3 separate regions of the Homo sapiens genome follow, and regions 1 and 3 are each linked to region 2. Evidence: fine-mapped expression QTL. Tissue or cell type: fibroblasts. Region 2 holds a variant in brackets; each other region holds the start of a gene. All regions are shown on one strand. Distances are between the middles of the regions.

What was found. PIP is the estimated chance that this variant, and not a neighbour inherited with it, causes the effect.
Region 1: CPED1 starts here. The variant in region 2 is fine-mapped to the expression of CPED1 in fibroblasts (GTEx, PIP above 0.99).
Region 3: TSPAN12 starts here. The variant in region 2 is fine-mapped to the expression of TSPAN12 in fibroblasts (GTEx, PIP above 0.99).

Annotation. Positions count from the first base shown.
Region 1 is chr7:120,987,129-120,989,815 of GRCh38, reverse strand. CPED1 (cadherin like and PC-esterase domain containing 1) reads right to left here and starts at 1,105. Exons shown (of 23, transcript NM_024913.5): 1 at 904-1,105; 2 at 1-425. The coding sequence starts at 194. RefSeq lists an enhancer at 1,850-1,929.
Region 2 is chr7:121,083,734-121,086,420 of GRCh38, reverse strand. All of the region lies in intron 5 of CPED1 (cadherin like and PC-esterase domain containing 1), which reads right to left. It also overlaps the pseudogene RNA5SP241. Among named protein-coding and RNA genes, the nearest start is that of CPED1, 96 kb to the right of the region's middle. The variant TAG/G (reference allele first, on the strand shown) is at 1,350.
Region 3 is chr7:120,856,541-120,859,227 of GRCh38, reverse strand. It overlaps TSPAN12 (tetraspanin 12), which reads left to right and starts at 1,084. Exons shown (of 8, transcript NM_012338.4): 1 at 1,084-1,408; 2 at 2,395-2,530. The coding sequence starts at 2,465. It overlaps LOC124901733 (a long non-coding RNA gene), which reads right to left and starts at 2,393. Exons shown (of 2, transcript XR_007060491.1): 1 at 2,020-2,393. RefSeq lists silencers at 1,430-1,729, 1,922-2,141.

The DNA.
Region 1 (2,687 bases), 97 kb after region 2:
AATCCTTTCTTGCATCTGCTTGCCTGGGTTTCAGTGGATGTGTGTGGGACAGCCCCAGGGGCAGCGGCTGTGAGCTTCCTCGACCCTCGGAGGGTCAGAGTCTGGTAGAAGAGACAGATTGCCACCACTAAGCCCACCAAGAAGGGTCGGGGGCAAAATCGCCGACGACAAGGGAACACTGGGCGACAGACCATGACCAGTTCAGCTTCACTTGGCCCCTGTCCACGTTGCGGGAAAAGTCATAGCAGCTATTTTTTGTCAGCATGAAAAATACTAATCTGTCTTCTTTTTCCCCAACTCCAATCAAGTTTGCTTCATCCCTGCTTAAGAATTTTCCAAAAGGTTGTGCCAAAGAATCATAGGTCCCGAAAGTCTGAGGCTTTTAATAAGAGCTCTTCCATGGATGACAGTCAAAAGTGGATGACCTGAGTTTAAAAAAAGACATCAAATAATAATAGTTGTAACGAATAACCTGAGTGTACCCCAGGCTGCCAAACTGTTGCTTCCAGCAATGCCTTATTCTCACATCTTTCAACTCACAGTAAAGGAGTCCGACTCTGCCTCAGCTTTGCAGGAAGAGAGAAAACAATACCAAAGTATATCTGGAGTCTGAAAACAGCATTGAAGAACGCAAAAGATTAAAACCCAAAGTGCCTGTTGCACAGCTGAACTCAGGCCAGGTTGCCTTAGCAGTTCCTCAATTTTCCTCCGGTTTTAAAGCAGTCTTGCTTTCAGCCTTTTGTATGCTTCCCTTCATTTAGTTTTAAATTCCCACTGTCCTGTAAGTATTCACGGCTTTTAACATAAAAAGGGCATACGCAATTTGAATGGACATGGTTACTGTCAGGGTTTTTGCTTGAATTTGTTTCATTCCGTCTCAAGTTCAAAGTTCTATGTACTTACTCAGTTTTCATCCTTTTAGCCAGGAAAAAAAAAGTTTCCATGATTTCCTAATGGATTGCTGATGAAAACCACTCGGAAGGAAACACCCAGTCGTATGACTCCAATTCATCTCACACACACACAGAGAGAGACACACACACACACGCACACAGACACATAAACACACGCGCGCGCGCCCGCTGCACGCCCGGCGGGAGCAGAGGACCTCGGCATCGCAGCCACCCGGGGCCGGGCAGAGCGGGGCGGAGCTAAGGCCGGGTTCCTCTGGCCCTGGGGGCTGCTGGAGCAGCGCTGTCAGCCCTGTGTCCGAAACCGTGGGCTTCCCCACTTTGGAAACAGCAGCTAGCATTTCCCCAAATGAGGCTGCCCACCCAGAGCTGCAGAATTTAGAAACGTATCTGATGTCTGATCCTCTGTGCAACTTCTTTTTCCTAATACAGAATTGGAAAAACAAATAGCCTTAGCCAATTGGTGACAAAGGTCGAGAATGAGACTAAAGTGAACTCCATGAGTGAATTGGGATATTCTTCACTCCAGGGAATTGTGGTTACTCTTCTGAGGATAAGAGGGTCACAAGTACTGTCTGGACCTCAGACAGCAAGCACCAGAATAACTCAGTCGTCTCTCTGTGTCTTAGTATGGAACTCAGATCACAGATGTTCTTATTACTCCTTTCCTGGACTAATTAATTGGGTCTTTCAATGATCTGATGCTTCATGGCCTGACATTTTGCTCCTAAAATGAGTCGATTATAGCAGGTGTTGGGGGTAACTTTTGCCCAGTAGATAAAGGTACACAGTGGGCTTTGTCCAGAATCAGCTCAGTCTAATTCTGTGCAGACCTTCGGGTGGACGCTGCTAATAGTGCAATTCTGCAAACCCCCTTCCACTTTTGCTGAGGCTGTCAAGGCGAAAGGAAATCAGTCCTTGCTTTGTGAACTCTGGATACCCAGGGCTGTCTTAGCGCATAGCAGGCATTATTTAAAGGCTCTGGACCTGAAGAGGTTTTCAAACTTGTTTCTAAGCCAAACTCTTGTGGGTTGAGGTTCTCCGTGAGGCCACACCCCTAGAGTGAGCCTCACCCAGAGGCACGCTGCTGTCAGCCCCTTGTATTTTGAGAGACGGAGCGCCCCCTAGGGGTGCCCAGCTAGCACAGATTCAGAGAAATGGGCATCTAGAGTTCCTTGCTTGTGAGAAAGAAACCCTTTTAACATCCTATAGAACAAATTAATTAACACATTACAGAAGAAATATTCACACGGAAGCTGGATTTATCCCAAGCCCTTGCATGTATCGCCTCCAGTGGCTTTAATATTATTTTATGTATAGGTTCAGAGTCCTTAATCTTATGACAAATGGGATAGAGAAAAATAAAGTGATGCTTCACTTTTAGAAGCCAAAAGAGTTTTAAGAGAAAATGGCTGAACAGTGGTGTTGTAGGACATATCGTTTTGGTGGATGCAATGTGATTTGAGAGATAATAAGAATTGTGAGATTTCTAAATTGGAATCCAGGGTGTGACAATGCTGTTACTGAGTGATAAGGAATAGGCAGACAGTTCTATTAAGTTCTGTTAAGGCAAGAAGTCTGAAAAACAGAGTTTGGGGAATCTAAAGAGTCATTCTTATGCTTTATTAAATTGTTGAGAACAAGGTACAGAAGAAAGTAAATCAGATGCTAAAATAAAATTGCCATTCGGTTGGGAGAAATGAAAGACAACAGTATTGAAAATTTTAAGATAATATAGCTAGACTTCAAATAATGGGAATTGGGAAGAAGGTGGAA
Region 2 (2,687 bases):
AATGGCTTTTAAACAACAAAATACCTTATTAAAATCTTTCCATTAGGTAAGGTTTCCTTAATTAAAACTCTGAGTACACCTGGCACATTTCTCATTTTGCTCTTGGCACAACAAATGTGTAGATTTACCAATAAATCACGTAATTGGAAAAATTTAGATATCATTTTGTGGGTGGTATCTTTGCTTTTTATAGCCTGCTACAAATACAGTTGAAAGTTCTTTCCCTTAAATGACACAAAACTGTTCTAAAATTGGCTGCTGGGCTGACCTACACGGGACTGAGGGAAGGAATGTAGAAACAGAAACATTACAAAATACTGAACTGAAGAAGACAGATTAAGCATAACCTTTCTACTCAACCATGTCATCTTCCTCCCTTTCTTCTCAATTCTGTATTTAGATTCAAAGTAAACCTTCCTGCTTCTGCAATATTTGGATCACAATGGTATAAATAGTTACGGCTTTATATGTGAAGGTTGAATTCAGCTCTGTATCCAAACTCTGTTCGGGAGAAATATTTCAGGCTCAGTCGGGACATTGTTAAAACCCAGGGGTACTAAACACACCATGACAACCCCCCAAATAGGAAATGGTAGAAAATACATCTATTTTTTGTTGTTGTTCTTTTAAACCCTATCGTCAATGAGAGATGACAAGATGCTATTCGGTTATTATTTATCAGTATAGTGCAGTTTTAGTGTGAAACTAATCCATGTTCAATAAGGAGTCCACTGTGTCTGGCCTTGACTGGCAGAACTATGCATGAGGTTTAATAGTAAGGAATCTCTCCTAAAGAAAAAAGAGGTAGATGGCAAGAGAAGCCCAAGGATACCAGGATGACAAAAAAGAAAGGCACTTTTTTGTATGCTGTTCTTGTATTCCACAGGCTCCACTTCCACTCCAGGGTTTAGGTCAAAAGCTAAAACAATACTAAAACATTTTTTTCAAGTTATCTGTGAGATGTTGAGACTATAATATTACATACAATAGAAAAAAATAATAAAGAAGGATTTTGCCTACTGAACTGAAAAAATCCAATTTATTTTTTACTTATTCAGGCTTTGGAAAACTAAAGGGATGACAGGCCCTGGGCAGGACAATGACTAGTACAGTGGGATGTACACCAGCAGTTTGTTTCAGCAGCAGCAGGAGGAGAAGCAGGTACTGCATGAATCTCTGTCCCTGACCCTGGACATGGCACCTCAGCACAGACACAGGCAGCTGCAGCAGCAGGACCGATGCCACATGGAGCCCAGGGGCAGAGTGCCTTTGGTGGGCATGAGCAGTGGTGTACATCAGCAGCAGATGGCCATGGGGGACTCCAGCAGAAGTGGAGTAAACGGTGAATA[TAG/G]CTGTAACAAGTATGAGAGGATTGTACTTATGAATACATAGGAAGTGATCTCTGAGACAAAGGGAGCATTTGGGGCCGTCACTACGATGAGCAATGCTACTGAAATTTAATGGATAAAGGCCACAAATAGATTTGTGCCTTATGCAAGATAGATCTGGTATTTCTTTGGAATGCACTGGTAAGGTATAAAGTCTAACATCTGTTTAAATGGTTAGGCATTCATTCTCATACCACAACAGCTGCTACGATGCTGAGTATCACCCTGTGCAACAACACATTGTCCCCTGTCCCACATAACTTTTGAATGTCTCAATGGATATTGATGTGGATGAAAAGCCAGTTGGTAATTATTTGAACCTAGAGCTTGATGTGGTTTTGCATATAAACTCAGTTTTACTCATTTTAATCAGTTTTATTACATACTGAATTTTGCAGAAATGAAATTCCATGGCCAAGCAAGGGGACACTAAGCTTTGCTTTATTTGTGACTTTCTCCAGAGCTGTTTCCATTTTGGAAAGGCACATCACCAATAGCAATGTGACCTATGGAATCTTAGTTTCCCTCTATGATACAACCACAGCAATTTGAATTTGTAGCTGTCACATTCATGGTGATTCTACAGATGAGTGGAAGCATCTGACTATTTCATTACACCCTATGGTGTAATCGTGCATAAATATTTACACATTGAAATACATGTTGTTATATTATAAATTACTTTCACCTTAATTTTCCTTTATAAAAGAGTTGGGGTATTATACTGGTTTGTTAAAATTATGTGGATAGGCGAGTTATAGATATTTCATTCTGGATCAACCAGGTGTCAATGAATATATATCTATTTTCAAAAGAGAATTTGGAGTCTGATAGGAGTGAGAGAATTGCTTTATGATGACTCAGTAGTGGTTAGTAACAGGATATTAGGGGGAAGGAGCCTGAAAATAGCAAATGTAGGTAGAGGCAAAGAAATATTTTTGTAATGATTTTAGAATCCAAGTTCTATCTCCAGGTTAGTGAGTCTTAAAAACATGAGTCTCACCAAACTAGATTAAAGTCGTAGCTACTAATTATAAACTAACAGTTCTGGAGATACTTATTGAAAAAACAATCATAATACTCAGCATTTATGGGGTGCTCACTGTGCATTGTTCCAAGTACTTGAAATGTATTAACTCATTCTGTCCTCTTAGCAACCCTAGGAGACAGAGTCCTGATCATCCCTACATTGTAGACAGAAAGCTGAAGCACAGACTACAGTCCCATACCACCCTGAAAGTGCTCAATCTGGTCTGATTTCGGAAGTTAAGCAGGGTCGGGCTTGGTCAGTACTTAGAT
Region 3 (2,687 bases), 230 kb after region 2:
GTCTTACATACTGCTTAGTGACTTGCTTACCAATAATTTTCCTAGCCTAACCCAGGACAACCATGTTGTCTTTTGGTCTTGACTTTTCCATATGAGACTGCATGTCTTATTGTCACTCCAGTCATGCAGCAACTAACTCTAGACAGGCAGTCATGGACATAGGATTCCATTTTTTTTTTTTTTTTTTTTTCTGCAAGGAAATCCAAGGACTCCAGTTATTAGGTCAAAGATGTTGCTCGTATTCCAGGTAATTCATATTTGCTGGTGAAGTTTTATTTGCCATGCAGTGCCCACAAAAGTAATCCTAGAAATGAGCAGTACTGTGAGGCATAGCACAACACATCCACATTTTATGTGGAGGATATGATCCAGTGGCATTTTATTTAGTGTGAAACTTCTGTCTTCTAAAAGGGAAGATTCTTTTGGAAGGATGGTCTCCTGCTGTGTAATACTTCATGAATTTCTAGTTTAAAAAAATTAGATTTTCCAAAGATCCACTACTATGTACACATTTCAAAATAAATCACCCAGTTAACTCAAAACAATCTTATCGTGAGAAATTTTGGAAAGCTTGAGTTACTTCTAAGAGTTAAAAATGTTCTTTCCTCCTCTTCTGCATGTCAGACTGCACATGATTACTCTGATGTTTCCGTAAATGCTATTAGTGCACTATGAAAGTGGGAAAGAACTTAAAAAAAAAAAAATCCGGGAGGGCAACAAAGCAATAAGAAGGATCATAGGGCACCATGTTAATAACAAATCACAGGAGGTGGCTCCATAAAGGTTGTGAAAACTAGTTTCTCATTGCAGGAATTGGGTTGGGCCACCCCTTCACCCCCCTTCTCAAACACAAATATTATCATATAATAAAAGCCTGCTTCTCTATGCTTATAACCCAGCCTCCATTCCTTCGACGCCACCATTTTAAAGGGATTTACTGCACGGACTTCTCCCAAGTTCCTAGGCATTATCTTCTGGACCCTATCCTGCAGAGGTGAAGCGTCCCTTTGGGGACTCTCGCTGGGTGAGAGGGACAAGAAACACCCACTAGGACCCAACCCCGGCAGCCAGCGGCTCGAGCATGCGCTGAGAGTTTGTGCAGCTGGCCCTGGCTGCCGCCGCTGCCTCGTCCGGACTCGGAGAGGACTTGGGAGGGACAGCGGCGCTGGGAGGTGGCTTAGCAGAGACTTTCCAGCAACTGCTGCCCAGGACTTTTTTTTTTTTTTTTCTTTTTCCCAGGAGGCGGCGACGGCGGCGGCGGGGGGAGAGGAAGAGAAAGAAGCGTCTCCAGCTGAAGCCAATGCAGCCCTCCGGCTCTCCGCGAAGAAGTTCCCTGCCCCGATGAGCCCCCGCCGTGCGTCCCCGACTATCCCCAGGCGGGCGTGGGGCACCGGGCCCAGCGCCGACGGTAAGTGGCCACGCGTCTGTCGCCTTTCCTGCCCGCTGTCCCGCCAGCCCGCCGGCGGCTGCCCTCCGCGCTGTGTGCTAAACTACTTAAGGGCTGGCTCTGGGGCTCCCTGCCGCCGGCGCTTCCCCTCGCGCCCTGCCGGGGGCGCGCGGACGCGATGGCTGGGTCGGTGGCCGCGCTCGCTTTGTGCTCCGCGGGCGGCTTTGAGCGAGGGGTCGCGGGAGCGTCCCGGGCGGGGGAAGCGGGGTTTGAATGACTAACCCGGCGTCTGCACAGCTGCATCGGCCCTAATTCCCCGGCGCCCCCCGCCCCCCGCCCACTGTCCCAGGCTAATCCATCATTCTGGGGCCGAAAACATCATTTCTCACGTTCTCCCAGAGAAACCCTAGTAGCCGGGCGGAATCTCAACTCCGCGCTGCCCCCTCGCCCCCGCCCCCGCCCCCGCCCCGCCGCCCCAGTCCCTTGCATTCACACCCGAGCTGCGGGACGGGGTAGAGGGGTGCGGAGTTGGAGTGCCCAGGAACTGTCCTAACTAGAAGGGCGCTCATTCTCTCGGGCTTGCCGGTGGCGCCTCTGACGTGTCCGGGGTAGGGGGCAGTGTGGTTTCTCACCTTCAGGACAGTGCCGAGCACAGCTGTCCTCGAGGAGGGGCGTGGAGTGAGGGAGGTTTTCAAGAGCGTCTCATCAGAATGCACAGGGCTCCGCCGCGTGTCCCCTGAGAACGCGAGTTTACTGTGCGACTTCATTCATCCGGATAGTTGCTCTTTTCTTTTCCCAGCAGGTGTTATCTGAAGCCGGTTTGGAACTTTTGGGAGTTTAGTTACCATTATGATTTTAACAAATGATTTTTGATGAGGCGATGTCTCGAATGCACTGGGCCTCGGGACCCTCTGGACCCTGCTGAGGGCGGGTGGAGGAGGGACGGGCAGGCTGTGGGAAGCGTGATGGTGAGATGTCCCGTGTTCTCTCTCCCCCGCCCCCTGCAGATCGCTGCCGTTTTGCCCTTGGGAGTAGGATGTGGTGAAAGGATGGGGCTTCTCCCTTACGGGGCTCACAATGGCCAGAGAAGATTCCGTGAAGTGTCTGCGCTGCCTGCTCTACGCCCTCAATCTGCTCTTTTGGGTAAGTAAGTTTCACTGCACCAACAGGTGGGAACGGCTGGCTCTGGTTTTCTGCAGCCACCGGATAATGCGCCAAAGGGCATGGCTAAGCATTAATTAATTACATGGGATAACACCCTTTATTTTTCAGAGAAGTAAAATTTGACCTTCTTAAAATG